Regions from separate parts of the Homo sapiens genome. Here all the other regions are reported to be linked to region 2. Evidence: microRNA targets listed by miRTarBase, many of them from high-throughput screens and not tested one by one. Region 2 holds a microRNA gene; each other region holds the end of a gene's coding sequence.
What was found. The annotated mature microRNA hsa-miR-766-3p reads ACUCCAGCCCCACAGCCUCAGC and lies in region 2 at 2,505-2,526, shown strand. An mRNA with a match to its seed (bases 2 to 7 or 8) in the 3' UTR can be bound and repressed. Matches are read on the target gene's strand: a 7mer-m8 pairs with bases 2 to 8, a 7mer-A1 pairs with bases 2 to 7 and ends in A, and an 8mer does both.

Region 1 (4,064 bases), not on the chromosome of region 2:
GTGCCAGGCTCTATTGTCATCATCACTGTGTAGTAGACACTGTATTTTGCAGATCGGGAAACTAAGTTGCCCGAGGTCATAGAACATTGAAGTGGCTGAGGCAGGATTCAGATATTAATCTGATTTTAGAGCACGTGTTCTTTTTTCTATATCATGTTCCCATGTCATTTGAGATTCTAAGTGTTTAAAACCTGGTTCTCGCATTTGATTCATGTTATAAATCAAGAACTTAAGTCTCCAAATAAGTTAAATTTGTAGGTTTAAATTGCCCTGAATCTAGCTGCATCTCATCTTTTTCTCTATATACAGATTGGAAGTAAAGGAAGATCAGAGAAAATAAGAACATATAATTTTCCACAGAACCGGGTCACAGATCACAGAATAAACAAGACGCTGCATGATCTTGAAACTTTTATGCAAGGAGATTATCTACTGGATGAACTTGTACAGTCATTGAAGGAATACGCCGATTATGAATCTTTAGTAGAAATTATTTCCCAAAAAGTTTAAGTTGATTTGTTATTTATAGACTTTCGTAGCTTAGAAAAATTCTACAGTACATCCACATAGGGTGAAAGTACCCTTACTCTCTTGAAAAACGTTGAGTTAACACAGTTGGAGGTAATATGCATATTCTGAAGTCATAGATAATTTACACAGATCTCTCTCAATGCATTAGCAAAAATCATACAATATACAGATGGTCCTCGATTTACATTGTGGTTAATTCCCAATAAACCCATCATAAGTTAAAAATGCATATAACGTTAGCAACACAGCAGTCTCCTAATTAATGACAGCTTGACTTAACAATTTTCCAACTTTACCATGGTGTGAAAGAGGTATGATTCCTAAGCCCTAAGGAGCTCCTCAGCTTGAAATGGGGCTGCATCCCTATAAACCCATCATAAAGTCAAAAAATCCTAAAACATAAGTTGGTGACCATCTGTAATCATGATGTGGTGGTAAATCTTGGACGCTACCTTACAATAACTAGACAAAGGAAAATCATCCTTTGTCCTGTTCTGTGTAAATATTTAATGAATGATCAAAACTTCAGTTTAAATATTATGAAAAACTTTAAACATAAAGTAGTAGAAATAAGACAGTAAATACTGTATCCTAATATCCAGTCAGGATACAGAAACCATACCATTAACTTGAACAGGGATAATTTTAATATAAAAACTGTTAACTGATAATGGTATTAACTTTTAAGAGGGATGAAAGAGAGCTATGATGTCCTAGGACTGAGAGTACCCCAGGAAAGAATACCCTTGAAAGGGTCTCCCCTTCCCCATGGTGAAGTCAGGCCTAATGGAGAGAGTGGCTACAGCCTACTCAGTGATTGGGAAATTCCCTGTCTTGCCCTGGGCCAGAGCTGGTGTACCGCTGGTGGATCAGGTCTTACAAGCAAAGAACCTCACACTCCCAACTGGTAAGCCAGAAGCCTCTTGCTAGGGTGTGAGCAAAACTTGGACAGGAACTCTCAGTAGATGTTTGTGTTTGTCAAGATTCTCCAGACAAACTTCCTTAAAAGGATTGGCTTGTGTTGTTATTATTAAGTCTAACAAGTCCAAAAGCTGGAGTGTGAGGCAGGAGGCTGGAAACCCAGGAAAGCTGATGGTGCAAGGTCCAGTCCAAAGGTATCTGTTGGAGGATTCTCTTGTTCTGGGAAGAGGACGGTCTTTTTTTCTCTTCAGACCTTCACCTGACTGGATCAAGCCCACTAACATCGAGGAGGACAGTCTGCATTACTCAGAGTTCACTGATTGATTTAAATGTCAATCTCATATAAAACACCCTCACAGAAACACCTAGAATAATGTTTGACCTTATAATTGGAAAATCAGAGCAAAAGTTAAATCTCAAAAAAAAAAAAAAAAAAAGTATGACCCAGTAGCTAGGCACCTGTGGCCCCGCCAAGTTGACACATAAAATTAACTGTCACAGTATCATCTTAGAAGTGAAAGAAGCCCCTTTATCCTGCAGTGCCCCTCTACCACCACCTACTGACAAAGAACATGGTGCTATCTGGCATGGGAGAAATGTTCAGTTTGCTATGGCTTGTATGTGTCCCCTCAAATTCAAGTGTTGCCAATGTGACAGCATCAAGAGGTGGGGTCTTTAAGAGATCACTAGGCCATGAGGGATTCTCTTAGGACTGGGATGAAGGCCCATAATAAAAGAGGTTTCGGGGAGCATCCTGCTAGCTTGCCTTCTGTATGTGAGAACACAGCAAGAAAGCCCTAGTCAACAAGTGCCAGCTCCTTGATCTTAGACTTCCCATCCTCCAGAACTGTGAGAAATACATTTCTGTTCCTTACAAATTACCCAGTCTCCTGTATTCTGTTATAGCAGCACAAAATGAAGATACCATACCTGAACACCTGAACATTCTTCACAAGGTAGTAAATGCACTGCTTTATTCTGGTCTCAGTATTGTGTGCTTAATAAGGAAATGAGAAAGGGTGGATCAGGGCATAGGATGAACAAGTTACTGCTAGACCTCTCACAATGCCACTAATGGATAAGATTGTATTTTCATCATTCTTGTCTCTTCGGAAGCTAACACCATGCTATAATAGGCACTAAATAGATGTCTAAAAACACCTTAAGTATTTGTCTAGAAATCTGGTGCATTGTTCAGAAAGAACCAAAATTCAAAATAATTTCAAAGGGCCTAAAGCACTAGTTAATCAAAATTCATTAGTTTTTAATGGTACTACCACTCTCAAATTTAAAATGTCATCTTACGTTCCTCTTCCTCGCATTGGATTTATTGCTAAAACCTGGTAAACACTTTTAATCCTTTTCAATTCCATTACCACTGCTCTTGTCCAGAATTACTTCGCAGACTAATAGTCACCTGACTTCTCCCCTGCATCCGATTTGCTGTCTAATTCTGGTTACAAATAAGTAACTGCCAAACTAATCTTTCTAAAAAGCAAGACTGATCTCGTCACTCCTTTGCTCAACAATGTAAAAGCTCCCATTGTCTCCCAAATAAAACCAGCTTTCCACTGTGTATACAATACATCCATGATCTGTATCCAGCATCATTTTGTATTAGCTCACTTTATACACCACCCCCCATGCCACATCAAATTAAATTATCCTGATAAATGCAACTGCATTTACCCTTTCCCTTATTTTGTTCTTTATGTTGTAGGCCTCCTTTGTGCCCATTTCTTCAGAAGACATCCCCTACAGCCATGGTTCTCATCCAGAGGGTCTTTTGCCCCCGCAGGAGACATCTGACAACGTTTAGAGACAGTTACCACAACTGGAAGATGGAATAAAAGAGATGCTGCTAAACATCCTACAACAATTATCTGGCCAAAAATGTGCTGAGGTTAAGAAACCCTGTCCTACAGATTATTCCCTTATCCTGGTACATAGAAGTAACTCCTTTTTTTCTATGAAAATTTCCACAATTTTTTTTTTTCTTTTTGACATGGAGTTTCACTCTTGCTGGCCAGGCTGGAGTGCAATGGCGTGATCTCGGCTCACTGCAACCTCCGCCTCCTAGGTTCAAATGATTCTCCTGCCTCAGCCTCCCAAGTAGCTGGGATTACAGGCACCCGCCCCCATGCCTGGCCAATTTTTTGTATTTTTAGTAGAGATGGGGTTTCACAATGTTGGCCAGGCTGGTCTTGAACTTCTGACCTCAGGTGATCTGCCCACCTAGGCCTTCCAAGTGCTGGGATTACAGGTGTGAGCCACCAGTCCCGGCCAAAATTTCCACAAATTTAAATGTATTTGACTCATCCAGTGTTCCACATAGCTTTATTTTATACACCTTACCCCCACAGATATGCCTGATTGGTATTCAGAAATTATTTACTGAACACCTATTATGGCTATTATGTGGCAAGCCCACAGATAATAAGCACAAGGGCAGGTGTCATGTCCCATTTATTTCCATATATCCCATTGTTTTGCATGTGATAGGTCTGCGATAAGAATTTTACGAAAGAATGAGGGCAGTTCTCTCTGCACTTCATGTTCCACCTAAACACCCAACAACTGATTGATGCTGATTTGAAAAATGAGGTGTATAC
Region 2 (4,064 bases):
AACCCCGTCTCTACTAAAAAATACAAAAATTAGCCAGGCGTGGTGGTGTGCGCCTATAATCCCAGCTACTCTGGAGGCTAAGGCAGAGGTTGCAGTGAGCCAAGATTACGCCATTGCACTCCAGCCTGGGCGACAGAGTGAGACTCCATCTCAAAAAAAAAAAAAAAAAAAAAAAAATCAGCGTTATGCTTTGCTTTATTAAGTGTGAATGAATAATAATAATAAAAAACCTTGCCATCTTTCCTCTCCTCCCCCACTTTCTCCTACTAGAGAAATGAGTAATAAAGAAGGCAGAGATGCAAACATCTCCTAATGCTTCCTTACAATGTGTTGCTGTTGCTGTGAAATCTTCAATGTTGTGATTTCAAGGAGACAGCTAATAGCTTTCAGAAAGCCTCCGCTTTAGGAACAGATTTCTTTTTCTCTATTGAGTGTCATCAGTTTTTCCTAATGACATAATGCCTGGGTATAGCCAAACTCAGGAAAGCCTTGTAATAAAAGCCATTTTTAGAAAACTTTCCTGCTGCCACTGCCCTCTAAGTTATCATTACAACTTCAGCTGCCACCTCCTATGAATTGGCCAACAAATTAGCATAGCAGGGCAGCAAGTCATTGTCTCTCCTGACTTCCTGTCCATCAGTACACCCGAGATGTGTTTGTTATCACCATCACCATCTTAGACAAATCTGGCTCAAGGGTAAGGCTATCTGGAGCATGGTAGGTAGAGATAGGTCTTCTCTGACCGGCCGTGGGCATGGAAAAAATAAAAAAGATTAGCACTTGTCCTCTCGAGAAGTCAGGGCATTTTGATGGAAACTAGGCTCTGTTATGAAGAGACAGCCTAGTCTGCAGAAAAACGGGAGCCTCGCGAGAAGTGTCATCTGGGTGCCACGGGCACTGATGTCTGGAAGCGTCTAGTCACCTCAGGACATCAGTCCCCATAGAGACCTTCTGAACACTGATGCCCTAAGTCATCAAGCAGCTTGCAGGCTTGTGGTTTGCTTTGCTAAGAATAAATAGGGACTGAGAGTACTCAGCCATCTCAAGGTGTCACACAGAACCACATCTTGGTACCTCATGGATTAGGAGTGATAATCATCCTGGGCTCTGTTCTCAGCTCAGCTCTGGCCTCCTGCTAAGCCTAGGGTAGGCTCAACCTCAAGGCTGGAAACCCCCAAGCTAGGCAGCAGCAGTTGTCAAGCATGCTGTTATGGCTGTGAAGGGATTCTGGGTCCTTTATTACTCATAATTGTGTTTCACTTTGAGAAACAAAATTCGAGGCTGAACAACATAGTGAGACCTCATCTCTACTGAAATTTAAAAAAAATTAACTAGTGGCCGGGCGCGGTGGCTAACGCCTGTAATTCCAACACTTTCGGGGGCCAAGGCAGGTGGATCACCTCAGATCAAGAGTTCGAGACCAGCCTGACCAACATGGAGAAACCCCGTCTCTAGTAAAAAGACAAAATTAGCCAGGCATGGTGGCGCATGCCTGTAATCCCAGCTACTCAGGAGGCTGAGGCAGGAGAATCGCTTGAACCCAGGAGGCAGAGGTTGCAGTGAGCTGAGATCTCGCCTTTGCACTCCAGCCTGGGCAACCAGAGCAAAACTCCATCTCAAAAAAGAAAAAATTAACTGGTGCTGTGGCGCACACCTGTAGTCTCAGCTACTTGGTCGGTGGGTGGCCTAAAGTGGGAAGATTACTTGAGCCTGGGAAGTTGAGGCTGCGGTGAACCCTGATCGAGCCACTGCACTACTGCAGGCTGGGTGACAGAGCAACACCCTGTCTCACAAAAAAAAAAAAAGAGAGAGAGAAAGGAAAGGAAAGAAAAAGAAAGTAAATAAAGAGAGAAAGAGAGAAAGAAATAAAAAGGAAGGAAGGAAGGGAGGAGGGAGGGAGGGAATTCCAGTGGAAGGAAGGAAGGAAGGAATGGAGGAAGGGAGGGGAGGGGAGGAGAGGAGAGGAGCAGGGAATTCCAGTGGATTCAGGATTATCCCTATCATAAATCACTCACCACTTACTCCCTTGCATCCTACTGTGCTTTGTTTTTTTTTTGAGACAGGCTCTCACTCTGTCGCCCAGGCTGGAGTACAGTGATGCAATCAATTTCAGCTCACTGTAGCCTCCACCTCCTGGGTTCAACTAATCCTCCTGCCTCAGCCTCCCGAGTAGCTGGGACCACAGGCATGCACCACCATGCCCGGCTAATCCACTATGGGTTTTTTTTGAGTGGGAAAGAGAGGAGTGGCCTCACAGCTAGTGTGCCTGAATTGGCATGCCTGTGAGAGGAGCTTGCATGTGAGTGTTTTGTGTTACATGCGCTGTGATGGGAAAGAGGGTGCTATCAAATATACACAGAGGATTGCTTAGCCTGCCTGCCACCGAACAACTATGTCAAAAGTCCCCAGAGTCTTCACACAAGCCGTGGTGTATGAAGCTGCATCCTCAGGACCTGGGCTTGGGTGGTAGGAGGAATTGGTGCTGGTCTTTCATTTTGGATTTGACTCCAGCCCCACAGCCTCAGCCACCCCAGCCAATTGTCATAGGAGCTGGATTGGAAGAAGCGGAAGAAATCTGTTGCCTGAGTGGAGAAGACTGTACAATGTCCTGTCTCTCACCATGGGGGATTTTTGTGGCAGGAAATGAGAGTAATGAGGTCCCTGCCACCACCTTGAATTATGGGTGGCTCCAGAAAACCTTATTGTAGATTGAGGGGGAAGAGAAGGGAGAGCGAGGTCTTGTTGCATGCTATTTTCAACCCATGCTCTGATATCTCTCAAGGTTGTAGACTTTAATACTAAGAATTGCTATGTTATTTTAAATTTAATGATGTTCTTTGAATGGCTGAAAGCATGGCCAGGACCAGCAAAAAGGCCCAGTTACTTAATTGACTGAGCTCCATTAATTGTCCATTTGTGAGGTCTGGGGTTTGGTTCCCACAAAGGCAATTGACATTTGGGCCCAGTGAGAACACATGGCTGAACAGTAGGGTCATAGGAAGACCCACAGGCACAAGTCCATCCCTTCCTCTGAGACAGCAATGGTATTTCCATTGTTGCCATGTACTTTTACAGGAATCACCAGTGGTTGACTTGAGAGCAAATCAGCCAATGGTCTTGTTCAGTCACCAGCAGGGGCCTGAAATGGGGACTAACATAACTGGGAAACACTGTCCACCCTGGGAGGAAACCAAGCCCAATCAGAATATTATCATTAGATGAGGAATAAAGAGTTCTGACAGTGTGTATTTCACTGGGCTAAGCAGTCACCTAGCCTCCCAAGTATAATGGATGTGGTGAAATAAGAATAAAGTAACTCACGCCAATTGGATTATTAAGTACTTTACAATGTACAAGAAGAATTTAAGTTAGACACAAGTCAGTAAAGGTGGTGCTATGGTTTGATTGTGTCCCCTCCAAAATTCAGGTGTGGCCAGTATGATAGTATTAAGAGGTCGGGGCTGGGTGCAGTGGCTCACACGTGTAATCCCAGCACTTTGGGAGGCCAAGGTGGGCGAATCACAAGGTCAAGAGATCGAGACCATCCTGGCCAACATGGTGAAACCCCGTCTCTACTAAAAATACAAAAAATTACCAGGCGCAGTGGCTCATACCTGTAATCCCAGCTACTTGGGAGGCCGAGGCGGGTGGATCACCTGAGGTCGGGAGTTCGGGACCAGCCTAACCAACATGGAGAAACCCCGTCTCTACTAAAAATGCAAAATTAGCCGGGCATGGTGGCACATGCCTATAATCCCAGCTACTCAGGAGGCTGAGGCAGGAGGATCGCTTGAACCCAGGAGACGGAGGTTGTGGTGAGCTGAGATCACGCCATTGCACTCCAGCCTGGGCACCAAGAGCAAAACTCCATCTCAAAAAAAAAATAGCTGGGCATGGTGCCACACACCTGTAGTCTCAGCTACTCGGGAGGCTGAGGCAGGAGGATCACTTGAACCCGGGACGCGGAGGTTGCAGTGAGCTGAGATCACGTCACTGCACTCCAGCCTGGCGACAGAGTGAGACTCCGTCTCAAAAAAAAAAAAAAAAAAAAAGGTAGGGCCTTT
Region 3 (4,064 bases), not on the chromosome of region 2:
GACAAGGGAGATTTTAGAGAAAGAATATTACCAGAGATTAACAGGATCATAATGATAAAGTGGTCAACACATCAAGTGGACATAAAATAGGAAATATTTATTATTCACCTAATAAAAACATACTAAAATATGTGAAGCAAAATCTGACAGAACTGCAGAGAAGTAAATCCAATTTAATATTCAGAGATGTCAACAATCCTCTTAAAATAATTGCTGGAACCAAAACCACAGAATGTCAATAAAGATAGAAAAAACTTAAATAACATCAACCATTTTTACCTAATCAACACTTGTAGAACCCCTTCATCAAACGAGAGTACAGTATACATTTCAAGTGAACATGTAACTCATACCAAGATAGCCCATATTCTGGGCCACAAAGCAAATCTCAATAAATGTAAATAATTCAAGTCTTAATGTACTCTGACCACAATGGAATTATTGCAGAAACTACCAGAAAGATAAGCAAAATCCCCAAATATTTAGGAATTAAATAACATACATTTAAAAAGAGCCATGTGTCAAGAAGAATTTTTTTAACTGGAAAACATCCTAAACTCAACTAAAATGAAACCACATCGGCTGGGCTCACGCCTGTAATCCCAGCACTTTGGGAGGCTGAGGCAGGCGGATCACAAGATCAGGAGATCGAGACCATCCTGGCTAACACGGTGAAACCTCGTCTCTACTAAAAATACAAAAAATTAGCCAGGCATGGTGGCAGGCGCCTGTAGTCCAAGCTACTCGGGAGGCTGAGGCAGGAGAATGGTGTGAACCCAGGAGGCAGAGCTTGCAGTGAGCCGAGATCGCGCCACTGCACTCCAACCTGGATGACAGAGCAAGACACTGTCTCAAAAAAAAAAATGAAACCACATCAAGCTTGATGGGAGGTAATTAAAGCAGTTCTCAGATAGATTTTTAACATTAACATCTCTTCCCCATATTAGGGGAAAAAAACCCAAAGGTTTGAAATGAAGGACCTCAGCTTCCATGTTAAAAAGTAGCAAAAGAAATGAAATCCAATAAAAGCGGAAGGCATTAGTAAAACTCAAAATGGAAAAGAAAAATCCCAAAATATCAGAAAACAGAAAATTCAATAATACCAAGTACTTTAAGATCAATAAAATTGTAAAATTGATAAATCTCTACCCAAACCAATCAAGGTTAAAAGAAAAATATAGACATTACCAGTATCAGGAATAGAAGAGGTTGCACCACTACAAATTCTACAAGTATGAAAATAATATTTTGAAAAATTTGAGTACTTAAATAAAACAGAAAAACTCCTTGAAAGACACAAACCATCAAAGCTCACTCTAGAGATAGATGGATGGATGGAGTGACAAACAGATGGACGGACAGACAGATGTATATATAACTAGTATAGCCCTCCATCTACCATGGAAATCAAACTTGTAGTTAGATGCTGTCCTACAAAACACACTTCAGGGCCAGAGTGACAGACAGACAACACACACACAGACAGATGTACATATAACTTGTACAGCCCTCTATCTACCACAGAAATCAAACTTATAGTTAGAAACTTTCCTACAAAACAAACTCCAGGCCCAGACAGCTTCCTTGGTGAATTCTACCAAACATTTAAGGAAGAAATAATACCAATTATTCACAAACTCTTCCAGAGAGCTGAAGAGCAGGAATACTTCCCAACTTACTCTATAAAGCTGGCATTATGCTGATACCAAAGCCAAACCTGGGCAAGATATAAAATTACAAAGAAAAAAAAGCAAGCAAGCAAGAAAGAAAGTTAGGGACAAATATCACTCGTGAACATTGGTGCAAAACTTGTTACAAAAAAACAAAACAAAACAAAACAAAATAGCAAATCAAATTCAACAATATACTAAATGACTAATACATCATGACCAAATGGGAATTATTACAGAAATGCAAGGTTGGCTTAACATTTAAAAAAATCAGTCAATGTAATTCATATTAAACAACTAAAACAGAAAAAGAAAAAAACCATATAGGATTATGGTCACCAGAGTCCAAGAAAACGCCCCACAAATCCCTATTTTCACCTTTGTGTAGTTCTCTTCCACTTTTAACCAGGATTAGCTAGGGTTACTTATGAAATATAGCAGAAATGACGGCTCATCACTTTCAGTTTAAGGTAATGACAGATACTGTGGCTTTGTTCTTGTGTGAGTTCTCTCCTGGATCACTTGCTTTGAAACTATTTCTCTACAATGGAACACTCTTAGCAAAGTACAAATGAAAAGAAATGAACTATGAAACACAGAACACCACCATGAGCCTTAATTTCAGAGTTTAAGAAGCCAAAAACATTAGAATACATATTAAATTACTCTATCTCTGTAGAATTCTAGGAAATACAAACAAATCTACAGTGACAACGGATCAATAGTTGCCTGGGGATGGGTGAAGGAAAGGGAGAAAATATAAAAGGAATCAGGAAACTTTTGGTTTGAGAAGTGCCAACATGTATCAAAACTTATCAAATGGTACACTATAAATATGTGCAGTTTATTGCAAAAATGTTTAGACTGACTTCTGGACAGTAACCTTAGCCATAAGAGACACAGGTATGGAAATATTTCTGTAAACCCTCATAATGGAGCCAGAGTAATGGAAACACATGTGGATGTACCTTTAGAAGGGTCATATTCCCTATAGTTTGCTGCAGTTTTCTCATTCCTTTATTAATCTGGGTTTCTGCACCAACTATGATTCCTACCTGGGCCTTCTGGAGGACAGCCAATATCAACTGCCTACTGAAAAATAGACTTCAGAGATCTTGACATGTCCACTGAGTTCAAATTCTCCTCAAGAAGCCTTGGGAATATGAAGTATCTTCTGGGAACAAGGGACGTAATTCATGTTGCTCCCAGACACATTAGAGATTATCACAACAAATGCCCACTGCTTAGGGTGACCTCAATTACACAAAAAATCTTAACATATAGACCAAAAGATTAGGCCTACAAAGACTGGCATTCTTTCCTAGGAGAGCTGAAGCAGTCAAGTAAGTTAGCTTGACACTAGCATAAGAGCTAGTCTTTGCCATCCTACTATCACTTCAGAGATACAGATAGTTGGAGCTCTCACAAAAGCTGTTCTTCCCTTCATACTGGCTTAGCTCAATTCTGTTCTCAACCCAACCCACAAAGCGAACAGAATCCTCAAGATTTCAGATAGTCTAAAAATTAAGGCATTTGTTGCAAAACCAGAATATGAGGCAGCCAATTTCAGGTCAGGTGTCTTGAAGGCTAGAAAAATTCGTCCCAAGTGCCATGTGAGATCAACTATATCCATGAAGGGAAACCTCTGCCAGTGGTCAGCAGAACAAAGCTCCCATTTTTCTGGCTAAAACTGGGTCATGCTCATGCTTAAACCAGTAGTGGGGCAGAAAAAAAGTGAGAATCCTTGATGGCCTCAGGCTACTGATGATTCCCTCCAGGGAAGGGAATAGTACAGAGGTCTGTCTTTTGAAACACATTGGGGTTACTTTGGCACAAGGCAGGACTCTTCCAGCACAAAGACAGATGGCTTCTAACAGGCACTGCCTTGACGAAATTCCAGCAAGAGTCTAGAAAATTCAGCATAGCTCCAGAAGGCTTCCCATATAGCTGGCACTCGGAAGAACCTCCCCAGGGTGAGTGTTTGAGTGTATAAAGTTCTACTTCTGGCTGTCGGCTACACATAAAGGCTATGCTTGGAGCTTCTCTCTGATGTCAGTTATTATGTTGAACAAGGAAACGGAATTATCTCCCATCCTAAGGCCTTTCTCCAGTGTGAATTTTCCAGTGGCGGATGAGGGAAGCCCTCTGCCTGAAGGCCTTCCCACATTCACTGCACTTATATGGCCTTTCTCCAGTGTGAATTCTATGATGCTGAACAAGTACATGTTTGTGGCTAAAGGCTTTTCCACATTCACTGCACACATAAGGCTTTTCACCATTATGAACTCTTTGATGTGCAATAAGGTCAGAGCTTTGGCTAAAGAACTTCCCACATGCGATGCACTCATAAGGCCTTGCTCCAGTATGAACACTCCAATGTTTAATGAGTCTGTA
Region 4 (4,064 bases), not on the chromosome of region 2:
AGTCTCCCTCCAGTGGCCCCCAACTGTTTCCCCCTGAAGAGACCACATGTAACCCATCCTGTGGTTTGTCCTTCTGCAGGAACAGCTTGAGAACTATGACTTCACCAAATTCCACTCGCTGAAGCCCAAGCTGATCGAGGCAGTGGACAACATGCTGAGCAACAAGATCTCGCCCCTCATGAACCTCATCAGCCAGGAGGAGACGAGCACGCCCACGCAGCTGGTGCAGGGCGGCGCCTTCGATGGCACCACCGAGGGCCCCTTCAACCAGGGCTACGGGGAGGGTGCCAAGGAGGGCGCCGACGAGGAGGAGTGGGTCGTGGCCAAAGACAAGCCCGTCTACGACGAGCTCTTCTACACTCTGTCGCCCATCAATGGCAAGATATCAGGTGTCAACGCCAAGAAGGAGATGGTGACCTCCAAGCTGCCCAACAGCGTCCTGGGCAAGATCTGGAAGCTGGCCGACTGCGACTGCGACGGCATGCTTGATGAGGAGGAGTTCGCGCTGGCCAAGCACCTCATCAAGATCAAGCTCGACGGCTACGAGCTGCCCAGCAGCCTGCCCCCCCACCTCGTGCCCCCCTCGCACAGGAAGTCCCTGCCCAAGGCCGACTGAGGGGTGGGCTGCAGAACGGGGTGGGAACTGGGGGACCTGGGCCTCAGGCCTGCTCCACCACTGACTCACCGAATGACCTTGGGCAAGGCACTGCCCTCTCTGTGCCTTGGTTTCCCCATCTGTAGAATGGGGAGGGTGGACACTGGAAACTAGATGACTTCTTTCACCTCCAAAATTCCCTTAGTTTCTATGAAAATATTGGGGGTAGGGGGGTGGATTAGGAGATTGAAGGGTTGAGAAGAAAGAGAAATTGTCCAAAGAGTCCTCAGAACCTGCCTGGAGAAATGCGCATGGGGGTGGGCCTGGTAAGTCCCAGGAACCACAGGAAGTGAGCTAAGGCTCACCCAGAGCAGCTGGGTCTCCAGGCTGCCTGGGCTTTTTGTCCTCATGAACAACTCTGGAGCAGCTGTCTGTCCCTCAGAGGGCACCTGGAGGCAGCAAAGATTATCTTATTTATTTTATTTTGTTTTCTGCTATATTTAGAGTGGCAAAAAAATAGAGCAGAGGGTTTCTGCTGTCTCCAGACTGTCTACCAAAGAGAAGGCGACAGATGCCTCCTGGGTTTGGAAGGGGGATGCACTGTGGATCTGCCATCCATTCTGCAGTCTCCAGCAGAGCAGGCAGTCAGGCCCCAGCGTGCCTCCATCCCAGTGCCCCGATGACCATCTGGTCAGCCCTCCCAACCTCCCTTCCAGGGGGCTTACCAGCAAAGCCATATTCGGCTAGGAATTTGGAATTCACAACCTTTATTAACCCCTGGCAAAACTTCCCGTTTGCATGTCAAATCACATTGAAGCCTGAAAATTAGCTTTTCTTACTGGTTTTTCCAATAAGTAATAGCAAAGCCCACTTATCATACTTAAACTACAGTAAAGAAAAGAGGTGGTTCTCTGCAGTGATCGTTTAGTGTGGCCCTCAAACATTAAATATCCCGAGGTCTCCTTGGTGGGTGGCAGGATTTAAATTCAATCAAATCCTGTCCTAGTGTGTGCAGTGTCTTCGGCCCTGTGGACACAGGTGAATGAGGGACCAGCCCTGCCCTGGGCTGTTGAGAAGAGATCAGTCCACCCAGAGTTAGACATTGTTTTTGTAGAAAACAGGCATTTATTATGTCTAGGGTTTTGTGTTTTTTTTTTTTCCTTACAGGATAAAAGCCTTTATACAGAAACAAAATGGAACCTTTCATATAAAACCTTTTCTTTAAAGGCTGTGTGGTTCGTATCATGAATGCCCATCACGAGGCAGGATTCGGGCACATACCTGTACTTCTGCTCCAGAGTGTGCGCTCCCCAAATCCCCTGAGTAAACCTCTCTGGACTGCTGCTCAGACACCTGCGTCAGGTGGAGGTGCCTCCCCCTCTGTGGGCACCAGCTTGGGGAGGTAGGTGACTTTTCCTTGCAAATCTCCCTGCCTCATCTCCAGAAAATTGCATACCTGCATGGCCTCTCTGCATTATTTATGCAGGAAGAGACACGAAACAGCAATGGCCACATGGTATGGGGGCCTGCTGGCACCAGAAGTGAATGAAATCAGAACCGTCCCACTGAGTCTTCCAAAAGGCACATAATTTTTTTTTTCTGTCACCTGCCTTTGGTGACAGGGTCAAAGGCACAGATTGAAGAGAAAATCTTGATTTGGGAGAAGCATTTATATCCAGATGCCTACCCTTACACTCCCTAGCTTACTTTCTACATAATTTAGTTTTAAGAGCAGGAAATGCATAACATGGTTTTTAGTCTTAACAAGCACTTAAATTCATTAGACGCATAGAAAAGAACCATTTATTATTTTATTATTTTTATTTTTATTTTGAGAGGAAGTCTCTGTCACCCAGGCTGGAGTGCAGTGGCGCAATCTCAGTTCACTGCAACCTCCGCCTCCCAGGTTCAAGTGATTCCCCTGCCTCAGCCTCCCAAGTAGCTGGGACTACAGGCACCCGCCACCACGCCCGGCTAATTTTTGTATTTTAGTAGAGATGGGGTTTTACCATGTTGGTCAATATGGTCTCGATCTCCTGACCTCGTGATCTACCCACCTCGGCCTCCCAAAGTGCTGTAACCTAAGCAGACAGTTCTGTGAATGCGTGAGGACCACCTGAAGTCTGCAGCCACGGTGGAGGTCACCAAAGGGTGAACTGAGAGAGAAGAGGGAATTCACTTGCCCAAAGGTTTACAGATGCCCAGGCAAACTGATTTTTCCATCCAGAATTATCTTGTTCTTTAACTCTCCTCAATTGTCATATATAAACATGAATTTATATACATGTGTGTCACATGAGTATGTCGTTTTAAAACAACGTGTACATATGTAAGTTTTGTCTGGATACAGAAAGCTGCTTTAGAGGGCAGCAGGTTGAGGTCTCTGATTTCTCCGTGGAGGAAAACCTCTCAGGCACTGTGATCTCCCTACCTCTGCGCTCTCAGGTGGGAGAGGCGTCAGGCAGCGGAGTCCTTTCCCTGCTGGCACCTGGTAATGTTCTTGGAGAGAAAGGAAAAAAAAAGGAAATCATTTGGCCACTTTTCTTAATATCCTCTTACATGCAGTCATTCATCAAGAAAAGTTGACTGGAAAAGAAAACACTAGAAAATATGAGGGATGGCGACCAAGTGAGGACTTGTATCTTCCCAGGACCAGTACAAAGTTCTGTGAATGTGTCCACACCACCAGCTGTCTCCCTACCCCACACGGCAGGGCGGCAGGGCCGACCCTGGGGCCTGCTCACCATCACCGTTGCCCTTCCTGCACCACCCCAATTTTCAAAGAACCTCTTCCACAGAGTGTTTATGTATAGGAGAGAGGGTGGAAGTACCTAAACTCTAGAACTACAACATCTAAGAAGCTGAGGCCCTGTTTTCTACACAGCATATGGTATCGCATAACACAAACCTTCCGGTCTTGAGTTTAAAGGGAAAATGAAAACTCCAGCCTATTGCTCCCACAGTCTGCTTCCAAGTTGTCAGCCTGCCAGTGAGGGTCTCCTGACCCCGTTTGTAGAGAAACACTGCACTAAGACTTGGGAATCTCCCCAGCTCCCAGGGAGGGGTGGCACACAACAGCCTTCCAACCTGCTTCCGCCTCCTGCTCCAGCCCTGCAGCGTCTGTCAATTCATTTCTCAACTCACCGCACTTGGATGGCCTGGGGGCAGGGTTGCTCTTCTGGGGGAGGGTCATTCATTCAGTTGGCTTTTGGCTTTCCTTTCTCCGGGCTGGGCCTGGTTCTCTTTTGAACACTTGTCGTGCTGCAGCAAGAGCATCTTTGGATTTGGGGCTGTGGAGCTGTGGTTCACCCGCGGGAGTCACAGCCGCGGCCTGGACCTTTCCACCTCGCACCCTCGCTCACCCTCCTTCATGATGCCTGGAGGATGCCTGAGACAATTGCCTTGAAGATGAGGAAAGTGTTTCACTGTTTATTTTCTCCATGGGATGTAGCAGGCAAGCATGCTTAGG
Region 5 (4,063 bases), not on the chromosome of region 2:
CTGCATGTCCCTGGCCCCCCACAGACCTGCAGGCCCCCTACACTGCCCCTTCTTTCCATCTCTGCCCCCTGCATCTGTAGACAAATGCTTAAGTCAGCACCGACTCAGCCAGGATGGCAGTTACCCAAGGCCACGCCGCGCCACTGCTTCTCTCCCTCTCGTCTGCTGTGTCTCCCTCCCTCCCGTGCATCTGTGAGTTCTTCCCAGTTCTGCCCACATTCAGTCTCCCTGTTTGCACTTGTCTGTGGCCAGTCTCCTGGAAGAGCTACAGGGAACTCATCCTGCCCCCGCTCTTTCCCCTCATCCTGTCTTCATCCTTCCCATGCCACGAACCCCTTGCTCTGTGGGAACGCCGGCGGCTCACCCGCGCACCCCACCTCCTTCCCCTCATCCTGTCTTCATCCTTCCCACGCCACAAACCCCTTGCTCTGTGGGAATGCGGCCGCTCACCCGCGCACCCCTAACGCAGTGCCTTCTGCTTGCTCCATGGCCCGTGCCTGTCCACCTCCACCTGGCCCCGTCGCCAGGCCTGCCACACCTTCTCGGTCTGCTCTTGGTTGTGGCACCCACCTTCAGCCACCTGCTCTTCTTCTCCCAGGCCTCTGCTCTCCAGCCAGCAGCTCCTCGGGCCCCGACTGTTTCGCAGGCCTAATTCCGAGTATGAGAGTCTCCCTGCCCCACCCGGCCCTTCTCAGCTACCGCCTTGCCTCCTTCCGCTGTCATCCAGCTATTAGGGAGCTGGCCACACTAGACAACAGGCCCTGGTCACCCCTGCTTCCCAGAGCAGGAAGGGGCAAGTGGCATTCACACACGGAGCCACCCACGAACAGCTTCCTGGTCAAGCGTGATGCCGGGACTGGCCCGCCACCAGGCGCATGTGGACCTGCTCTGAGCTCCTGCTCTTCCTTCCTCCTCACTGTGACCCCCTCCAAGCATCACCCCTGCTCCACAGACAAGGAGGGCCAGGCACAGGAAGTCAGGGACTCACCCGGCGCAGCTGGGCTTTGAGCCCGGCTCTCTGCACCCACTCCTTGCTCCTGGAGTGCTGGGGACTCAGGAGGGTGAGAGGCAGCGGCGGCCCCAGGGATTGTGTCCTGCAGGCAGAGATCTGTGGGAGACCACAGAGGAGGGAGCTCCAGTGTGCACATCCTGCGGGCCAGCCTCCTACTCAGGAAGCAGCAGTGGCACCCAAGGCCTCAGGCGTGTACTTGAGTCTGACAGAGGCGGGAAGCCTGGGCCAGGTCCTGGGGGACTGAAGGGGAAGGAAGCCCTTGGAGGCCCAGCCACAGGAGCAGGTTCCTGCTTGGACTTGGTCAGGGAGCCCAGGAGAATTCCCAGCGGCCTGGGTGGCCTGGGCTTTGGGGACAGCAGCCCCACAGGGGCTCATGCTTTGGGGCCCACCACGCACCAGCTGTGAGCACTGAGGCCCTTTCTGCATAATGGCACCCTTTCTCCCAGATGGGAGAGCAACAGTTCCTCTCCAGGCTGAGGAGACTCGGAACACGCACTGAGGGCCCGACAAATGTCGTCTGTCACTAGGTGGCCTCACTGGACACAGTGGTGAGCGTGCTGCGCTCGTGGGACCTGAGCCTCACGGAGGCCATGCTCCAGAACATGGAGGCTGAGCAGCAGCGCCGGGCCCAGGAGGCCCAGAGGCACAAGGAGGCCGAGGCTGAGCGGTGTGGAAGGCAGGAGGGGTGTGGGAGGTGCTGGCGAGGGGTGCTGGCAAGGGGCGCTGGCAGGGAGCCCGGGCAGGGGGTGCTGGTGGGGGCGCTGGCGGAAGCCTCTGTCCCAGCTCATTCCTGCTCCTTAGTATGACCCTCAAGGTCCAACAGCTGACCAGGGAGCAGCAGCAGTGTCACAAGGAGGTGAGTGTGACCTCAGGGAGGAGCCAGGAAAGGAGGAGGGAGAGCCGGGTGGGGAGGAGGGGGAGCCGAGGGAGGGCCAGGAAGCTGGGGGAAGAGCCAGGAGGGGAGGTGTCCTCAGGCCCCTGGGCCAGGAGTGACCTGGTCGGAGGATACTGGCCAGCCTTGCCAGGGCCTGCCCGTACGCCCACCCAGCTGCAACAGGCCTACTGTGAGCTTAGCCGGAGGATCTCAGAGCACGACCAGTGTGAGTGGAGGTGCATGGACAAGACCAAGCTCACGCTGCAGGTGGGGGCCCGTGGTGGACTTGATATGCCCCTGCGTCCTCAACACCCCTCCTTGTTCCAAACCAGCCCAGAGCTCCCCGCTCCCAGGCCTGGGGTTTTTCCCTCTCAAACATGGGGAGTCACCAGCCGACAGTGGCCTGCTTGGGGTGGGGTGGGGAGGAAGCTCGGGCAGCTGCCCTCTCCAGCCAGAGCATGGGGCAGGGCAAGCAAGTCAGTGTGGCCTCCTCCTCCAGGCCATCAAGGACACAGAGGCCCAGGTGGACAGGCTGCGGCAGGAGGCCCAGAAGGCCGAGGAGGCGCTGGCTATGGCCAGGCTGGAGCTTCGGGAGCAGACGCAGGAGGGTGGGCCTGGCATGGGGCGCCGGCTGGGGGCTGGGACATACAGCCCAGGGCGGGGTCCGGCGTCGGGCTTGCCTGTCAGCTGCACTCTGCTACCCCGACAGGGGAGGAAGAGGCGCCTGGGCTGAAGTGCCAGGTCACCGAGCTGCACGATGTGCTGATGAAAGATGTAGGCAACCGCATCCGTGCCGATGGCCGGTCAGTTCTCCGGGCCAGACGTGGGCGATTTGGGGTTTGGACAGACAGCAGTGACCTGATGGGTGTCCCCAGGTGGCCTCTTGTTATTGACCCTTTGGGCCAGGCGGCCACCTTCCTGCGCTACCAGGATACCAACTATGTGGACACGGTGAACCCGGAGCCCCTGAGGCCGGAGACGATGTGGCTGGCTCTGCTGGGGGCTCTGCGGTGAGGCAGGCAGGGTGACAGGTACACCCCACCCCACCTCCCTAGCCCCACCCTGGCCTCACCAGCCTCATGGGGCAGGTATGGGAAGCCGCTGGTGTTCGACCTGCGAGAGGAAGACCTGTTCCCAGTCGTGCAGCGGCAGCTGGAGGCGGTGCAGGAGAGGTACCTGTCGCTGCTGCGGCCCACGGACGGGCCTGAGTATAGCCCCACGCAGTTCCAGGAGCAGCGGCTGGAGCACTTCCGCCTCTTTTTCGTCACCAAGGTCCAGTGGCCGCCAGCTGAGCAGCTGCAGGTGCTGCTCCCAGTGCGCGTGCAGCTGCCAGGCACAGGCCTCTAGTGCTGGCCCCAGTCCCAATAAAACGTGTGCCCCGGGGCGCGGTGCTGCATCTGTGCTGCGTGCGTGGGGGCAGCGGTGGCGTGTGCCAGTCCAGGACTCCGGCAGTCCCGGGCCCCGGCCGGCGGACATGGGTCTGCAGGCACTTGGGGGAGGCCCTGCTGGGGATGGGCAGCCTGCCCGGCCGACCCGTGCGCAGTGAGGCGCAGCGGGAGACGTGGGAGGGACGGTGAGGGTGCAGCCCTCGGAGCTCAGCCTCGCCTCGGAGGGCAGGAAGGGTCTGTGCTAGTGGGTGGGGGATGGACAGGCAGACGGGAGGTAAAATGTAGTCAACTTTATTCTCCTTAAACCACAAAATAGAGTCTTTGGTTGTACAAACATCACTAGTTACAGTCTCGCCGAGGTCTCGGCTGGGGTGGGGCAGTTAGTTAGTCACAGGCCAGAACTCCTGTGGGGTCTCTTTAAAATGCTAACACCCAGGTTAAAAGACTTGGGGCAAGGGTGGTGCTGGAGCTGGCAGGGCCCCCACCCCAAGTCTGGGGGAGGTGCCTGCTCCTCTAGGAGGGCACAGGGCCCAGGCCACGGCGCCCAGGCCTTACGGGGCGGCGGCTGCTGCACAGTGCCACATCTTCAGGGCCCACAGCGCCGGGTGAGGGCCTGCCCAGAAGCACCAGAGCCACTTCTCCATCCTCCTCCTGCGGGCCTGGAGGGCAGGGACAGGTGGGCAGTGAGCTGAGGGCAGCTGGGCTCCTGGGAGCTCACCCCAGCCCGGCCCCAACTCACCAGGGCTGGGAGATGGTTCCAGGGACCTCAACTCCTCAGCAAAGTCCGGT
Region 6 (4,057 bases), not on the chromosome of region 2:
GAGGGAACTGAGGCACAGAGAAGTGGAGGGCATAGAACTGCCAAGTGGCAGGGCCATGATAGGAACTAGGCAGCCTGCCTTGGCAACCTGTGTTTTTAAATGTTGCTTATGTTCATCTGTGACCTCTTACTCACCCTCTCCTGCTCCATTGCTTTAGGCTATGAACTCTCCAAAGTGGAAGGGAAAACAGGGACCCCTGAGAAGCCCCTCTCAGACCTTGGCCTCCTATCCTATCGAAGCTACTGGTCCCAGACCATCCTGGAGATCCTGATGGGGCTGAAGTCGGAGAGCGGGGAGAGGCCACAGATCACCATCAAGTGAGCCTGGCGCTGTCTACCTGGGGGTACATGGCATGGCTTGTCTGTTCCTGGGCTTTCTCTCTCAGGGCTCCTGGGGACAGATAAAGGTCCTCAGGGAACCTGACCTGTGCTCTCCCACAGTGAGATTAGTGAAATCACCAGCATCAAGAAGGAGGATGTCATCTCCACTCTGCAGTACCTCAATCTCATCAACTACTACAAGGTAGGGAGGCAGGCAGGGGAGACAGGTGTGTGGGATGCAGAGTGCAGTCCTCTGTGGGCTGACCACCTGCTGAACCCATCTCCTCTGCCCAGGGCCAGTACATCCTCACACTGTCAGAGGACATCGTGGATGGCCATGAGCGGGCCATGCTCAAGCGGCTCCTGCGGATCGACTCCAAGTGTCTGCACTTCACTCCCAAGGACTGGAGCAAGAGGGGGAAGTGGTGACCAGACACTGCCCACTGCAGTGCCAAGACGGCAGCAGGACTGGGGCTGATAGCCCACCCCGCCCCCACTGCAGCTCCCACAAAGCACTCTAAGGGAGATGGGGCTGAGGACAGCTCAAAAAGGAGAGGACAGGCCTGGCAGGGGCCCACTGGTGCCCAGCACCAAGGCGAGCTCCGGGCTCAGACCAACTCCAAGGTCAGCTGGCCACAGGCCCAGGCCTCCTCTGAAGCAGGGACCAGAGGGAGCCAGGCAGCTGTGTACAGTGAGAAGGGATCCGGATGGGGGAGCTCTGTACAGAGGGCTGGTGATTGTAAAAATTTCTTTTGTAAAGTAGAAGTTGGGGGTGGGGTGGGTGCTGGCTGCAAAAATTTCTGGCTTCTCTTACCCCTATTGCCCCCGGCAATAAATTGTTTCTATATGCCAGAGCCATGCAAAGTTCTTGGTGGGGAGGGGGAAAGGGCCCATGCTGGCTTAGGGGCTCTAAGGCGCCCAGACTCACAGGTGCTGTGAAGAGCTCCTTTATTGGGGTGATGGAATCGGTTCCAAAGAGCTGGTTTACTGCTGTGAAGGGATCGCAGCTTTGAATTTCAAGCTCTGGTTCTCAGTCCTCGGGCACCTGTGCGTGAATCTGCAACAGGAGTCGCCTCTACTGTTGGACTTGTAAGACAGGGCGGCAAGCTGGCCCCCATACCCGAGGAAGGACCCAGCTGTTCAGAATAACCGCTTCTAGACATGCTAGGAAGAGTGGTCAGGGAGCTACGCTTCCCACACACTACCCAGTAGAATCCTCCAGGCTCCGTCTGCGCAATTGTGCTCCCCAGCCCATCCACCCGGGGGCAAGACGGAACTCCTCGTCTACTCACCGCTGCCGCAAGGCTGGGCCAAGTTAAGGCCCCACGCACTTTGGCATCCGGGCCAGGGATGGTCTCCAGACCCCACAGGGTGAAGCGGCTGAAGTTGGCAGTGGCTCCAATGAAGCGGTCCTGGGGAAGGGGCCTGGCTCAGCATCGGGACTACAGCTCCCGCCCGCACCCCCTTTCAACCCTATCCCTTTGCTCACGAAGTCCCGCTCCAGCGGCTCCTCCTCTTGGTCGTCAGTCCCGGAATCCCGCAAGGGGTCTGGCTTCCCCATCGACACCTTCTTCTCTTCTGTCACCATCACGTATCCCACGAGGCCAGGCGGCACCGCCACCTCCTCTCCCCGTAGACAGCGGCCCCGAAACGACACTTCGAGTCCTGGAGCGGGAGGCGCAAAGGGCCTCAGGCAGGACCCACGCTGGGTCGAGCCCGGAGCTGCCCTCCCGCCACCTCCGGACGGACCACGATCCCCAGGAGCCCAGGCGATGAGAAGCGCGCAGGCCGGCGCGGGGGCTGCCGGGAGCCGTAGTCCGGCCGCAGGGCTCACCCTCGGGGCCCTGGCGGATGGCGGGCGTGAAGAAGCGCCCCACCGGGGCGGGCCCGTCCACCGCAACCTCGCAGGGCAGCAGATGCAGTGTGGCGGGTACGGCGTCGCGCAATGTGGCGGAGCGCAAGTGGACGCGGTGCCTCTCGATGGCCGCTTCGTCGCCGCTCTCCATCCTCCCTCCTACGCGACGCCAGGGCTCGCGAGCTGACACTGAAGCTGGCGCGGAAAGCGCGCAGGACCTCTCAGGAAGCCTCCGCGGGGCCTCACGGGAAGCCGCCGCGGAGCTTCACGGGAAGTGTAGTCCCCTTACCCCCTAACGCTTTCCCTGGGTTCAAGTCCTAGGGTTTTCCAGTTGTGTTTTGTTTTTTTCCTTCCTTCCTTCCCCCCTCCCCTCTTTCCTCCCTCCCCTCTCCCCCTCTCCTTCCCCCTCCCCCCTCCTTCCCCCTCCCCCCTCCCCCTCCTCCCTGCCTCCCTTCCTTCCCCCCTTCCCTTCCCTTCCTTCCCGTCCTTCCCTCTTTCTTTCTTTTTCTTATTTATTATTATTTTTTTTTGACAGAGTCTCGTTTTGTCGCCCAGGCTGGAGTGCCAGGCACGGTCTCAGCTCACTGCAACCTCCGCCTCCCGGGTTCAAGCGATTCTCCTGCCTCAGCCTCCGGAGTAGCTGGGATTACAGGCGCACACCACCATGCCCACCTAATTTTTGTATTTTTAGTAGAGACTGGGTTTCGCCATGTTGGCCAGGCTGGTCTCGAACTCCTGACCTCAGGCGATCCTCCAGCCTCGGCCTTCTGAAGTACTTGGATTACAGGCGTGAGACACCGCCCCCAGCCGGGTTTTTTTCTTTTATTGTTTTTAATGGCACATGTCGTTGTAAAAATCTAAAACGATTCTGAAAAGTACTCTTTTTATATTGATTAGTAGGTAGGTTATTCATTTTTAGTTTATTAGGGACATCAACCCTTTTCTTAAATGCATTGAAAATGTTTTATCTGTGGTCTGTCTTGCAAACCTGTGTAAAGGTGATTTTTGCTGGACAAGGACTTATTTTTGTGGTTGTTTGGTCTTTTAGACAAGGTCTCACTCGCCTAGGCTGGAGTGCAGTGGTTTGATTGGCTCACTGCAGCCTCGACCTCCCAGGCTTAATCCATCCCCCATCCTCAGCTTCCTGTGTAGCTGGAACCACAGGCCTGCGCCACCACGCAGCTAATTTTTGTATTTTTGGTAGAGGTGGAGTTTTGCCATGTTGCCCAGGCTGGTCTTGAACTCCTGGACTCAAGTGATCTGCCCACCTTGGCCTCCCAAATCACGCTGGAATTACAGGCGTGAGCCACTGCACCCAGGACAAAGACTAATTTTTTGTAGTCAAATTTATCAACACTTTTCAGTCTTTTAGATTTCACAATTTTCTCTCTTTGGTTTCTCAGCTCTTCTCTAATGTTTATTTGTTCAGACACCCAACTTAGATATATTTTTTCAAGTTCTCACATAAAACAAACACAAAACTGGAAATTTAGATTTAAATTGCGTTTAATTTATACATCCCTGCACATCTGGGAGCTGGCCTTGGTATTCTGTTGAATATAAACAATTTCAGAGAACATCAGCATCGGACAAGGTCACTCTGTGACCGTGAGGGAGCAAGACAGAAACAGAACCACTCCATCGTCACATCTGAATGCTGGCAAAGGTGAACACTGTCCAAACCACAAAAGGCATGAAACATCCCTCTTTCTCCCATAAGAGAGTGACTGTTGTTTCCTTACCAATTACAGCATTAGCCTCCAACTAATCTTCTCTCCTTCTGGGCAAGACTCATTAAGATAGTCCGTCATAGACATACCCCCACCTCTGACAGCATCCAAGCCAGAGAGAAGCCTGGCTTCCCTAAACCCTGACTGAAATC
Region 7 (4,064 bases), not on the chromosome of region 2:
ACGCACTTCACTAATGGAAATAAAAGCACAACTATATTTGGGCACGACGGATTTAAGTTTTTCTTGTTGAGAAGAGTACATCTTTCCAAACTGGACATCAAGGAATTGCTACACAGAAGAACCACATCCAGGATAGAAAGGACCAGCCAGAGCTCGTTCAGTAGTGTATTTCAGAATCATCAGGGAGGAGCCGGTAGCAGAATTATCCCGTTAACACTGAGACCACATTTCACCTGTTACTTATTTTTCTAAATGGAGTAGGAGAGAAAGATGCTAAAATGTGATCTTGGGAGGAGTCCCCCAGTCCCCCGAAAAAGAAGAAGAAAAAAAAAAAGCAGAACTCCAAACCCCTGTGGTCATGGCAATTTCCCATCAAAACTGCCCATGTAAAATAAACACAAGCTGCTAAAAGTGAATGTTAAGAAGGAAGGCACTGGTTAGTGGGTGGTCCTGACCAATCCCCTGGAGCTGGAGAGGGGTTTTCCCACGGCCTTTGGTTTAATGTGTCTGTAAACTCAACAAACCTCCGTTTCCCTGAGGTAATCTGCAAAAACATCAGTTTTCAGTCCCCAGAGACCATTTCCAATTAAACCTCACCCCCCAAATCATTCAATGTAACATTTGCCTTATTTTTAGAAGAAACAAATGTTCCCATATTATTCCCAGTTTTTGAGAGAATCCTGAGGCAGCTCTCTCGGCTGCTACTTGAAGTTGAATTCTTGAAAAATCTTATGTAAACAGAAAGCTTAGGCCAGGTCAGGAGTAAAATGCAGTCAAAGCTGTTTCTCATCACACAGGTGATTACAGGTTAGCTCTGCCCTATTCAAGACAATCTGATCCATTCCTTTTTTTGACAGCAGTTTAGAGACAATTGGCCAACAAAACCAGCCTGGCCAACAAGGTGAAACCGTCGCTACTAAAAATGCAAAACTTAGATGGGCGTGGTGGCAGGTGCCTGTAGTCCCAGCTACTTAGGAGGCTGAGACAGGAGAATCGCTTGAACCCGGGAGGTGGAGGTTGCAGTGAGCTGAGATCATGCTACTGCACTGCGGCCTGGGCGACGAGCGACTCTCTGTCTTAAAAAAAAAAAAAACAAAAAAACCTCAGCAGGCCATACTGCATCTTGAGAAGTCTTTTTGAAGCTACTTTAGTTTGACTTTAGTGTTAAAGTAGCTAAAAATTTTTGACTCCCGCCCACATATTCAGATACCCTCACTTTGTGCATAGGATTTGTCCATTACACCTCAGTCATCTAATTTGTTGGTATAAAAGATACCCTCGGCTGGGCGTGATGGCTCACGCCTGTAATCCCAGCACTTTGGGAGGCCGAAGCAAGTGGATCACTTGAAGTCAGTTTGAGACAAGCCTCACCAACATGGTGAAACCCCTTCTCTACTAAAAATACAAAATTTAGCCGGGTGTGGTGGCAGGTGCCTGTAATGCCAGCTACTCGGGAGGCTGAGGCAGGAGAATCGCTTGAACCCTGGAGGTGGAGGTTGCAGTAAGCTGAGATTGTGCCACCGCACTCCAGCCTGGGCAATAGAGCGAGACTCTGTATCAAAAAAACAAATGAAAAAAAGATACCCCACTCCAAAGTTCTAAGGGTAGCCTCTGGTATGAAGAAACCAGGGCTCCCTAGAAATAAATCTAAACTTGAACCAGGCTTTCCCCCTCACACATACCCCAGGGAAGAGGCTGAGCTCATGAAAGCTGCAGGAAGTCATTTTGGCTTCAGGGGCTGGGAGAGCAGACACAACCTCTGAAACAGAGTCAGGGACGTGGGAACATAAAACATCCACTTAGCCATCCTAACAGTGCTGGTCCTGTGAAGGGGTGTTGGTTGGTGTTTGGGAGCAAAGAAAAGGTGCTGCGCCCCTAGAGTTTGGAATCTGATGGGCAGAAAGTGCCTCTAAACCGGAGGTCAAGATGTACATCTTCAAACTGCACACGTAACCTCTGAGCAGAAGCCCCTGGAGGTGGGGACCCCAGCTTCAGAGACTCCCCGGCACTGATCACAGTCCATCCCCCCCATTCACATAAGGTCCTGCCACTCTCAGGCTGTCTACAAAGTACAAGCAGTGACAGCAAGTTACTCAATCCTACCTCCTCACCCCTTCCGCCCAACCCCCAGCATCCCTTAGAAGTGACCCCTAGTTTGAGGCTGTGGTGAGCTATGATTGCACCACTGCACTCCAGCCTGGGTGACAGAGCCAGACCATCTCAAAAAGAAAAAAAAAAAAAAAGAAGTGACTCCTCCATTAGCAAAAATTGTCACATCCCTGGGCCCTGCCGATGACAAGGATTGGGAAATGGACATTGGGTCTTGAAGGGCCCCCCTCAAGTCGGAGCCCAGGTGCTTACATCAGAAAGTCGCCGACAACTGCCTGCGGTGGCTGGGAACGTTGCTTCATTTCCTTTTCTAGCAGGATGCATGATTGGGCAAGAACTTGCTTAAAACACAACCAGCTAAACAGCTAAACAGGGCCTGGGAGGGAGGCCCCAGCCCCAGGCTCCTGGCTCTGAGGTTAATTAACTTCTGGCCGAAAGCCCAGAGCCGGAGTGCTAGGGGTTGGGCGAATCTCTGCCCAGTCTAATGTGGTCCATAGTTCCAGAATTCACTTCAGGATCAGAGATGTGGTGAACACAGCAAAAACAGTGGCAGGGTCGTGGGTGATGTGGATCTTGGGGGAAGCTTGGAAGGCACTTCTGGGGTCCCTGAAGCCGGGGGGTTGAGGGGATCTGACTCCCTGTCCCTTCTACAATGGGAAAAGGCTGCTTCAATGCTGCTTTTCGCAAGTAGAGGGTCTGCAGGGGTCAAAGGGATCACCATCCCACCTTGGAATCCAGAAAGTTCGTGGGGGCAGGCTCAGAGACCAGCCTGCAGGACCTGAGAAAGAGGCGCCGCCTTCCCTGGATGAACTCCAAGAACCCACACTGTGCGAGGAAGATGAACCATCTTCCACCAGCTTGGGAATATCAGTCCTGCCCAACCCAGAAGAGACCTGGAAAATGGTTCTAAGCTAGAAGGCACCACGGATGCCCCTCCATCAGAAAGAGTGGGACGTGTCACCCATGGCCACCCTCAACACACCCTGGAAAGCAGCAAGCTCATGCACGTCAGTGTCCCTGGGCCTCTGCCTGCCATGCAGAGCTGAGTCCCCATGGTCCGCAGCCTCCCACCGGGGCTGCCTGAGGAACCTGGCAGCCACGGCGACATTGTGAAGGAATGAGCCATGCAGGAGTCGGGGAGCAGTTGACAGGAGGGAAGGGATTGCCCTGAGCTTGGAGATAACCACTGTGGCTCACGCCTCGATCACAGTCCCTGCCGAGGCAGGAGAGGGGTGGGTGGGGGGTTGGGGGCCATCTCTAGCAGCTGCAGCTGCTGGGCTGGGGGGCTGGAGCATCCCCCACGGCCGGGCCTTTCCCGTTGCTGCCTGAGCTGGAGCTGGGTTCCAGGGACTCGTTCATCTTCTCGCAGATGACATCCACCAGGCGCTCGAAGACCTGCTTCACATTGATGTTCTCCTTGGCACTGGCTTCAAAGAACTCGAAACCTGGATGAATGTTAAGGTGGGGACACTCGTAAGACCCCTGAGGGCAGAGTCTCAGCTGTGGCATCACAGAAACCTGGCTTCTAAGCCTAGTTCTGCTCTTTATCCTGCTGTGGGACCTTGGTTGTGTGCCTTTGCCACTCCAAGCCTCAGTTTGCTCACCTGTAAAATGGGAATGATGATCCTACCAATGATAAAAATCTGTGGCAGGCCAGGCGCAGGGGCTTATGCCTGTAATCCTGGCACTAAAGGAAGCTACGGCGGGAGGATCGCTTGAGGCCAGGAGTTCAAGACCAGCCTGGGCAACATAGCAAGGCCCTATCTCTACAATAAATTTTTTTAAAAAGTAGATGGGCGGCCAGGTGAGGAGGCTCATGCCTATAATCCCAGCACTTTGGGAGGCCGAGGCGGGAGGATCATTTGAGGTCAGGAGTTCAAGACCCGCCTGACCAACATGGTGAAACCCCATCTCTACTAAAAAGACAAAAAATTAGCTGGGCATGGTGGCACGCG

Region 1: miRTarBase lists MTRF1L as a target of hsa-miR-766-3p. Seed matches in the 3' UTR shown: 7mer-m8 at 1,583-1,589.
Region 3: the mRNA of ZNF772 is a reported target of hsa-miR-766-3p. The part of its 3' UTR that is shown has no 7-base or 8-base seed match.
Region 4: the mRNA of EHD4 is a reported target of hsa-miR-766-3p. Seed matches in the 3' UTR shown: 7mer-A1 at 893-899 and 7mer-m8 at 2,452-2,458.
Region 5: miRTarBase lists SCRIB as a target of hsa-miR-766-3p. The part of its 3' UTR that is shown has no 7-base or 8-base seed match.
Region 6: the mRNA of KAT5 is a reported target of hsa-miR-766-3p. The part of its 3' UTR that is shown has no 7-base or 8-base seed match.
Region 7: the mRNA of RAB3D is a reported target of hsa-miR-766-3p. Seed matches in the 3' UTR shown: 7mer-m8 at 2,191-2,197 and 7mer-m8 at 1,526-1,532.

What each region holds. Positions count from the first base shown.
Region 1 is chr6:152,986,341-152,990,404 of GRCh38, reverse strand. MTRF1L (mitochondrial translation release factor 1 like) reads left to right here. Exons shown (of 7, transcript NM_019041.7): 7 at 310-3,043. The coding sequence ends at 510. Among named protein-coding and RNA genes, the nearest start is that of FBXO5, 5.3 kb to the right of the region's middle.
Region 2 is chrX:119,645,225-119,649,288 of GRCh38, reverse strand. It overlaps MIR766 (microRNA 766), which reads left to right and starts at 2,441; the gene lies at 2,441-2,551. All of the region lies in intron 5 of SEPTIN6 (septin 6), which reads left to right. RefSeq lists an enhancer at 1,208-1,387.
Region 3 is chr19:57,469,510-57,473,573 of GRCh38, forward strand. ZNF772 (zinc finger protein 772) reads right to left here. Exons shown (of 4, transcript NM_001144068.2): 4 at 77-4,064. The coding sequence ends at 3,765. Among named protein-coding and RNA genes, the nearest start is that of ZNF772, 6.0 kb to the right of the region's middle.
Region 4 is chr15:41,897,197-41,901,260 of GRCh38, reverse strand. EHD4 (EH domain containing 4) reads left to right here. Exons shown (of 6, transcript NM_139265.4): 6 at 80-4,064. The coding sequence ends at 616. It overlaps LOC105370792 (a long non-coding RNA gene), which reads right to left. Exons shown (of 4, transcript NR_135681.1): 3 at 3,740-4,064; 4 at 2,446-3,094. Among named protein-coding and RNA genes, the nearest start is that of SPTBN5, 5.2 kb to the right of the region's middle.
Region 5 is chr8:143,787,376-143,791,438 of GRCh38, forward strand. It overlaps SCRIB (scribble planar cell polarity protein), which reads right to left. Exons shown (of 37, transcript NM_182706.5): 36 at 4,014-4,063; 37 at 3,550-3,933. The coding sequence ends at 3,788. It overlaps IQANK1 (IQ motif and ankyrin repeat containing 1), which reads left to right. Exons shown (of 14, transcript NM_001381874.1): 8 at 1,540-1,688; 9 at 1,814-1,868; 10 at 2,061-2,153; 11 at 2,386-2,494; 12 at 2,596-2,689; 13 at 2,762-2,896; 14 at 2,975-3,270. The coding sequence ends at 3,233. Among named protein-coding and RNA genes, the nearest start is that of MIR937, 24 kb to the right of the region's middle.
Region 6 is chr11:65,718,433-65,722,489 of GRCh38, forward strand. It overlaps KAT5 (lysine acetyltransferase 5), which reads left to right. Exons shown (of 13, transcript NM_182710.3): 11 at 158-317; 12 at 441-522; 13 at 615-1,172. The coding sequence ends at 749. It overlaps RNASEH2C (ribonuclease H2 subunit C), which reads right to left and starts at 2,366. Exons shown (of 4, transcript NM_032193.4): 1 at 2,155-2,366; 2 at 1,810-1,985; 3 at 1,613-1,732; 4 at 1-1,377. The coding sequence starts at 2,326. The coding sequence ends at 1,351. RefSeq lists a silencer at 2,052-2,291 and an enhancer at 2,442-2,511.
Region 7 is chr19:11,322,032-11,326,095 of GRCh38, forward strand. RAB3D (RAB3D, member RAS oncogene family) reads right to left here. Exons shown (of 5, transcript NM_004283.4): 5 at 37-3,554. The coding sequence ends at 3,367. It also overlaps a transcript of TSPAN16 not described here. Among named protein-coding and RNA genes, the nearest start is that of TSPAN16-AS1, 2.7 kb to the left of the region's middle. RefSeq lists an enhancer at 2,217-2,426.